Linked DNA regions of Homo sapiens: region 2 is linked to region 1. Evidence: fine-mapped expression QTL. A gene starts in region 1. The other region holds a variant in brackets. All regions are shown on one strand. Distances are from middle to middle.

What was found. PIP is the estimated chance that this variant, and not a neighbour inherited with it, causes the effect.
Region 2: its variant is the best candidate, but not a certain one, in a credible set for the expression of VEZT in whole blood (TOPMed, PIP 0.79).

Annotation. Positions count from the first base shown.
Region 1 is chr12:95,215,805-95,220,201 of GRCh38, reverse strand. It overlaps VEZT (vezatin, adherens junctions transmembrane protein), which reads right to left and starts at 2,395. Exons shown (of 12, transcript NM_017599.4): 1 at 2,316-2,395. The coding sequence starts at 2,351. It overlaps FGD6 (FYVE, RhoGEF and PH domain containing 6), which reads left to right and starts at 2,735. Exons shown (of 21, transcript NM_018351.4): 1 at 2,735-2,977. The coding sequence starts at 2,962. RefSeq lists enhancers at 1,527-1,576, 2,177-2,416, 1,881-2,476, 2,477-3,071 and a silencer at 2,647-2,876.
Region 2 is chr12:95,295,987-95,300,383 of GRCh38, reverse strand. VEZT (vezatin, adherens junctions transmembrane protein) reads right to left here. Exons shown (of 12, transcript NM_017599.4): 11 at 4,126-4,333; 12 at 1-219. Among named protein-coding and RNA genes, the nearest start is that of MIR331, 10 kb to the left of the region's middle. The variant A/T (reference allele first, on the strand shown) is at 2,255.

The sequences.
Region 1 (4,397 bases):
ATTACAGGTGTGAGCCACCATGCCCCATCTGTCCCGTTTCTTGATCTGGGTGCTGGTTACATGGGTGTGCTCAACATGTGAAAATATAACCATCCACACACTTGTGATCTGTGCCCTGTCCTTATGTAAATTATACTGCAATAAAAATTGTGTATATCAAAGAGCAAACAAACAGCAAACTGGAAATTTTTCTGCAAGTATGACAAAGGCTTAGTAATATATGAAGAACTCACGCAAGTCAATTTTTTTAAAGCTAGCATCTAATAAGAAAATGAGCAACAAATATGAAGAGAAATGTTCAAAGAAATAAAAATAGCTAATAAATGTATAAATGCATAAAATGTAAATTAAAACAATGGAATGTTATTTTTGCCTATCAAATTAGCAAAGATTAAAGGAAACTGTTAAGGCTGTTGTTGAGGATTTGGTGAAACCAATACTCTCTTATTCTTAATGGAAACCGGAATTGGTATAACCTTTCTGCGTAAGTCTTAAATGTTCATATTCTTTCACCCACTAGTTCTACTTCTAAAAATTATTCTGAGGAAAATCAGAGTTGTAGTTAAAAATAGGCTTATATCACTGTTGATTACAATGGTATTTTTTTAAAAAAAGGTTATATTATGATACACGTGAGGGGATATTATAATATTAATGTTTTCAGAGAATGATGAATGGGAAAAGATTCACGATAAAGTCAAGTGAAAAATATATACAAAATTCTACGTGGTATACCTTTTGTTTTAAAAAATATCACACACACATTGTGTCTTAATATAGAGGCTAAAAAATTACACACACATAAACACACATTTACATAGAAATAAAGTCTATAAGAACACATACCGTACTGTTAATAGTTACCATCTTTGGGTGGTGGGATAATGGATGATTTTAACTTGGGGGCTTATTTTCTACAATAAAATGTTCCTTGAGCATATATTACTATTATATTCAGAAATCAAAAATAATGGGTAAAAAAAATACACCCATCAGTTACCCTTACTCTAGAAAATATTTCTCTCTCCTTCAGCTACCACATTCAATCTATAAACATTGCCTCGATTTTAACTTACAAGTGTCTGTCCAAGCCATTATTCCATTACGTCTCTCATTTCATCTCAGGCCCTTGTCTTCCCTAATGAACGCCTCATATCTAGACTCTTCACTTCGGTAAAATGGCCACATTTTCCACTGCTTCTTCATTGCAGCCACATCAAGCCACTTTACATAGCCACCCTCCACACCCCGCCCCCTAAAAATGCACACCAGGTACTTTCACACTTCCCAAGCTTGGCATAATCAGTTCTCTTTCCCTGTAATACATTTTCTCCTGCCGGTTTTTCTAATCCAATTCATAGTTAAAGATTCACCTCGGATATCGCGTACTGGGTGTAGCCTCTGGGAGGCCGCAAGAACAGAAATTAATCCTTCAATGACAGTTTGTACATATTTCAACATTTAGCATTCTGTCCTGTCTGTGCCTCGCTCTCTCGCTGTATGGCATGGGCCACTTCATTTTTAAATTTTCTTAAAATCTAGTTGGATAAATGAAAGTAAAGCGTATACATGCAATACACATACGTACAGGGGTGCGAGTTTTGACCTGTGTCTGATGGAAAAAAATGGCATCAAAAACACTCGCCCGATTTTTTTCATTCAAGATGGCAGAGAACGTCTTAAAATAGTCCCACACAAAAGCACTCACATCTAGAGCCCCGAGTCAGAAGAACTGGCTACACCTAGCGCAACAGCAAAGGACAAAAGAATCGAATCTAGATGCTGAGATGCCCTGGCCCTAACTACCCACAGTAGGTCCCACAAATAGACTTTAAACCGTGTTAGAAAACGGGCACCTGCTGCCTTCATTCCGAGGGCCACGCCTTGACGGTGAACAGTGACCTGAAGCACTCTGGATACTGACCCAAAAAAATCGCGGATGGAAAAGGAGGAGGCTAAGTTGTGACTATCTAAAAGGCACGATTCGGCCCCGCCCCAGCCGGGCGCAGTCCCCCCCGCCGCACATCCATTCCCAGGAAGGAAGAGACACCGCTCCAGCCCAGAGCCTGGCAACCGGGCACCGTCTGGGAATTCTGGGCGGGCCCGAGATAGAGGCCGGCCACGGCCAGGGCGCCTCTGGCTACACCTGTCAGGCGACGACGGACTCTAGGCCCTGAAATCGCTGGGGTTCGGTGGTCGAGGCCAGCTGGAGCGCGTCACCCGATCCCTCGCCCCGGGAACGCCTTGCTTCCTCGATTTCCGTCTCGTCCTTCTCAAACAAAGGCAATCCACACCCACCGCCATTTTCCTCTTACCTCAAAAACCACCTCTTCGTCAAACTCCGGTGTCATCCTTCTCCGCCATGCCACCCGCCTCAGCACGATGGGAAATGAAGGCGGGAGTACAGGCGGCACGGAGCTCCAGCTCCTGCCCGTCCCGTGGGTCCAGAAAACTACAATTCCCAATATGCCTCGCCGCTCACGCCCCCTTTTCGAGCCCGCTTATTGGAGAAGAGAGTGAGCGTGTAAGCGAGAGAGGCGGGAGCGAGCTGAAGCTCGAGCCCTCCGATTGGAGGAGGCTAGGGCTTTTGTCTGCCTTTTACGGCCGCGACTAGCAGGGGGCGCCCGGAGCACTGCTGATTTTTGGAGCCCGAGAAGGGCACGCGCCAGCGGAGCCGAAGAGAGCACTGCTCGTGCCCGCGCCTGGCTGTCAGCCTGCCGCTCTGCGGGGCGGTGCTAGTGCTCGCCCGCCCGACCCCGGCGGCTCGCGCCCGGGAGCGCCGCAGGGTCGCTAGAGTCGGCCGCGTCCTTTGTGTGGCGCTCAGGCTGCGCCGCGGGGCGGCGGGACGGAATGTGGGCGCTGCGGGGGCTTTTCTCTCCTACCCGAACTGTGGGAACAATGGACTGAAAGGGGAAGATGGATTGAGGGGCCGAGCGGGGAAGCGAGCTGCACCGGGGAATCATGACTTCTGCAGCCGGTAAGTGACGGCGCTCGCGCTGCCGCGGGAAAGTTTGTGGCGAGCGCTGCTAGGCTTGGGCTCGCGAGCAACTTTCTTCGCCGGGGTGGGCGAGTTGTGTGCCCCGTACCTTTGCCGAGCACCTCGGCAAGCGCGGAGCTAATGGGATTCGCTGCCGGCTTTCTCGTCTTTTCCTGCCCAGAGGGGCTGTTTGGAAACCCGGGATTTCTCGGGATCTCCCTTCCAAGGGGGACTGTGCTGGGGGCTCTGCACCAGGTGAAATGCGATGTGTGAAGGGCGTTCGCTCATCTCTCCAGCAGTGCGAGGACTTCGCCTTTGCATGTGAAAATAGTGTAGATTCCCAAGTTAATAGATCAGTTATTATAGGTAAAGGCAGTGTTCTCAGCGTGTTCAATTTGGCCACTAAGTGAGTCGCTTTCAACCTTGTATCTGCTGGTAAACCTTTTACCCATTTTAAAGAGGCGTAGACATTGTCATGTCCTGGTGGTTTTACCTCTGTTACCTGAGAAGCAGAGGAGTTGAGATTGTTGAGGTTTTTTTTTTTTTTTTTTTTTTGCTTGTCTGCACCCAATTACAATTATTTTGTTTGTTTCTACCTGATTAGGGTAAACAAAGCTTTATTTTCTGTCTGCCTCCCATAGTTCTTTCCCCTTCATCCAAATGACAAAGCCTCTATCTTTGTGTGGATTTTCAGCAATTCTAGACGTTGTGTTTCTGAACATTCTTAAGGAACAATTTCTGTTTTACAAAATAATTACCAAAGTGGTGTTACGTTCACTTCGTAAGTACATAGGTTAATTTTTAAACCAGAACTTATGTATTAAGTAGAGTGTTATGGGTTATTTTACGTTTTTGTCCACGTTGAAACTTTCATTAGAAATTTTATAGTGAAATAGTTTAAAGCTTCTTCTCAAGGTTACTTCCAGAATCAGCACTTAAGTATCAGATTAAATTTTCATTGCTTTTCTTGGCATTTGTTTAAAATTCTTGCAACTTGAAACTGTCCAACAGCACTCAAATGTTCTGATTTGTATTATTTCTAAAGCCTAGATATATTGTAGTGTTGCATTGCTCCCTGTGATCAGATTACAACAAACGAAACAAGAAGTTAGCCAATAGGAAAAGAAAGCAAGAAGTGGGTGTTGTGTGGGTCTTTCCTTTTTGATGTTATATGCACTTATATGAGATATCTTTATAAACTCTCTTTTCTTTGCCAAAGGGAGGCTTTATACTTACATAAGGTAAATTATTTTCATCCTACATTTCTGTGCCTTACCTTCGTTCAAGAAATTGATTTAAATTAAAAGTGGTTGGAAATTTTAAAATCCTTCCAGCCAGTTTTAGCTCTTTCCTTTTTGGAGGTGTCAAATGTATTTAAAATAACCGTGTCTTATATGTATCAGTTTTCAATTCCAGTCTT
Region 2 (4,397 bases), 80 kb before region 1:
GGGGGAAGACTTCATTTGAAGAATTATCTTTATTTTTACCTTCTAGAGAGTTTTCACATAAATACTCAGTCCTACTTATTTCATTGTCTGTTGTGGCGGATTTATTACTTTCCTCTTCAGTATCATTTTTACTGACTTTTCCCATATCTGAATTCATTGATGGTTCTGAATTACTTATGGGTTCCACTGGGTCTACAGGAGACAAGGATTTCAACACGGCTTCAAATAAAAAAAAAGAAAAAAGAAAAAAAATAACTAAGGACCTAGCAATGATTTAAACTTTTAATTCAAACTCTCAGTTTTTTTCTTAAAAAGAACAATAAATAAATAAAAGCTAAATAAAACTTTCTAGTAAAATCAATGAAAATTTATAAATCCAGGAAACTTTATAAGAGAGAAAATGCCTAAGAAATGAAATGAGATAGGGATTTGATGAAGGTTTTTATGACACCTCACATATTATCTTATTTAAAATATTAAAGCAGTGGTTCTGAAAGTGTGTTCCCTGAACCAACATTATCAGTTATCACCTAGGAATTTGTTAAAAATGCAAATTCTTGGGCCTGATCCCAGACCTCCTGAAATGGAAACTCTGGGAGTAGGGACCAGCTATATTTTACAAGCCCTCATCTTGATTCTGATACACACTAAAGTTTGAGAACCATTGTATTAGGGAATAAGCAGCATGGTTTTCACTGATAATACATCAGATAAAAGGCTTAAAGTAATCTAGATAATAATAATATCTTCCATATGTATACATATATATTTACAAGTTAAAACAGCATGGAAAAAAATGCAACATACAATTTAACTTACTTGCCAACCACCTAACAAGACCCTAATGAAAGAAAAGCCATAACTTCTACACATTTTGTAGTACCACGAAAAATACAAATGAAGTCTGCATTCAAGATCAACTATTGTACAAAATATAATACATAAATATAATATATATTCATACGGTAGAAGTTGTCCTTGCAAGGAAAATGCAGTTTTATTTAGCCCCTCTTGATGTTAGTAGGCAGTGGGTTGCTTGCTAGGCAGTCGCTCATCCCAGCATGAGGGGTTAGTACAATACAATATAGTATGAAGCATGACGGAAGGAAAAAAGTGCTTCTCGAAGAGCTGGCGTGTATTTAAAAAACGTTTTTGTAAAATGTGTCCACTTCCAGGAACCATCCCTAAGCTGCAGTAACTCCACTAGAGAAGCAGCAACAACAGAAAAAAAATGGCCACAGCAGGTTCCAGTGCAGACTTTCCCCCTCTAATTCCATGCGGACTTTACCCCTGTAGGCAGAGATGAAAACAGCTCTGGAAGATGTACTGAAATTTTTCATGGGAAAAGCATTCTATGGTATCAGCAGCTTTTTACTTATTTTCACAAACTAAAACAGCATTATGACCCTTTCCAATGTAAACTATATCAAAAGCACATACCTGAAAAAGAGACACATTTCTCTCATTGATAAATCTTTCCCATAATGTCAATAGCATAATTTTAAAGCTATATGAAGAAACACTAAACAATAAAAAAGGATATAAGTTTATATACAATGCTATTTTCAATATATGTACATTCTTAGTTTATAAATCTGTTAGCTCTTAAAGGAAGCAACATATATTAGAAGTTGGTTGATAGTTCACAATTATTACTAATTAAATGGGGTGGATATAATCTGAGTAATGAGAGGATCAATTGACGAGTGTGTTAGAATTTAAGCCTTGAGGCAGGTAGGAGGCTTTACATTTTGTCTCTTGATCTTTGCGCTAGGGATACAGCAGTAAACAGTGCCTGACATATAACAAGTACCTAATAACTACTTGTTGAATGAGTAATTTGCTGAATGAATGCTGTGGGATAATAAGGCCCCTATTTAAGAAGACTGTAATTTTGTTACAGAGACAAACAAAACAAAACAAAACAAAACCCTGAACATATAGAAAACAACAGTGCCTAAAATTAATCTCTGATGTATGTAGGCCCAGTATATGAATGAACAGATTGCAGGAAATCAATCTGTTAATCATTTCCCTTCTCTGCTATATGCTTTGGGGTTCAAGACTTCCTTTATATTTTATCACAATGTTCCTCTAGTGTGAGGGTCTGTAGTGTTAGGAGAGGCGGCAGAGCTGGAGCACTCAGAGAAGGATTCATGGAGAAGGAGAGACTAGTAGAGAGGACAGCTTGGTGGAGAAGGCAGAATTCTTGGTAAAGGGGTAAGCATGAATTATTATTATTATTATTATTATT[A/T]TTATTTTTTGAGAGAGAGTCTCACTCTGTCACCCAGGCTGGAGTGCAGTGGTGCGATGTCGGCTCACTGCAACCTCCACCTCCCAGGTTCAAGCGATTCTCCTGCCTCAGCCTCCAGAGCAGCTGGGATTATAGGTGTGCGCCATCACACCTGGCTAATTTTTGTATTTTTAGTAGAGAGGGGGTTTCGCCATGTTGGCCAGGCTGGTCTTGAACTCCTGACCTCAAGTGATCCACCTGCCTTGGCCTCCCAAAGTGTTGGAATTAGAGGCGTGAGCCACTGTGCTTGGCCAGCATGAATTTTTTTCATGAATAAAAATAACACATTTGTGAACTGTAGTTTAATTCGATAAACATAAGAAGATATCTATAGTAAAAACAGTAGAAAATATAATTGGATAGATGAATTCTTATGATGAAGAGACTTGAAAACAGGAAAAAGAGTTTAGATTCAACACAATAAGAAAGGGAGAAACCACTATAGGTTTTAAGATAGAGAGCCATCATCAATGCAGTGTTGGAGAAAAATCTGCAAAGAGTTTGCAAGATAGCTTAGAAGAAAAAAGTACTGAAAATGGAAGTCAGCTAAGAAGGTATTTTAATGTACAAGGATAATCTACTGAGGACCTGGGCTATAAAGGGGGCCAATGGGAAGAAAGAGGAATGATAAAACCAAGAAATGCAGATCTGGACAGGAGAAAACATAGGGCTCCTGAGGGGAAAAAAAAAAAGAGAACTGGAGGAACTTTCCAGAAGTATAGGTAATCTATGTACTTCTAGTGAGGAGGGAAAAGCAGGGCAGTTGATTTCGAGGGTCCACACAGATACTGTAAAATGGAAGAGAATCCACACTCTACCTACTTAGAAATCCATAGGCATTAATTCAACTAAGAATTAGCTAGGTTGATACTGTCAAGTATTAAGCTTCCCCTGATTCCTTCCCTGTCTCCCATGAAGTTTGACTTAAGAAAAGAAGGGTGAGAAACAGAAAGGAATGTAAGGCTTTTGTATTACCAGCTACCCCACTCTGCTGAAATCAGAGTATGGGGAGTACGCCCACAGGCACCCTGCTCCCCTCCCATCTACTAAAGTGCTCAAACCACTTAAATAATGCTAATGATGTGGCTCACTGGTCTAGGTTTTAATTCCTTTTTTTTCTTTTCTTTTCTTTTCTTTCTTTTTTTCTTTTTGAGATGGAGTCTCCCTCTGTTGCCCAGGCTGGAGTGCAGTGGCGTGATCTTGGCTCACTGAAACCTCCGCCTCCCGGGTTCAAGTGATTCTCCTGCCTCAGCCTCTCGAGTAGCTGGGACTACAGGCACGCGCCACCATGCCTTGTTAATTTTTGTATTTTTAGTAGAGATGGGGTTTCGCCATGTTGGCCAGGCTGGTCTTGAACTCCTGACCTCAAATGATCCACCCGCCTCAGCTTCCCAACGTGCTGATATTACAAGCATGTGCCGCTGCGCCTGGGCCATTTTTTTCAATGTGAGCACAGTTATTAATTTTGTGCTTCACTGAGGTATTTTTAAATATTTTAACATATGGACAACAGAGTTGAGAATCTCAAATTCACTAAATTTGAAAATAACATTTAAAATATCCCAAATTATTCAACTCACTGCCCATTCTAAAACAAATTTACTAAAAAATTAAATAACTCATAAAAAAGTATGACTTCATATTTCCAATGTGGTTACATTCCTACTCTTTTATTAATCAAATTGATTTAGCATCTAGAAGAAAAAGTACTATGCATACTGGTGGACCCTTATAAAACCCCAAGAATTCTTCAGCTAAAATAACATTCATGGTTCAAGAAAGAAAGAATCCCCTACATTGAAATAACCTGTTACTTTAAAGTCAGTGCTTACCATGATCACTAAATAGAAGTTGCTTCCACTTCTGCCTTTCTGCCTCTGAAGCTTTAAATCCCAGCACAGATTTTAATTCTTGGAGCACCCTCTTGGATTCTTCATGCTCACGCTTCTGTCTCTCTTTGTCTTCTTGAGACAAGTAATAAAAATCATCCTTTCTGAAATCACTATCAATATCTATATCATCTACATAAGCTTCTAATTCCTGAAAATGAATAGAAGAAAAAGCACTTTACTTGAAGCAAACAATTCTCTAGTAAGCATTCATT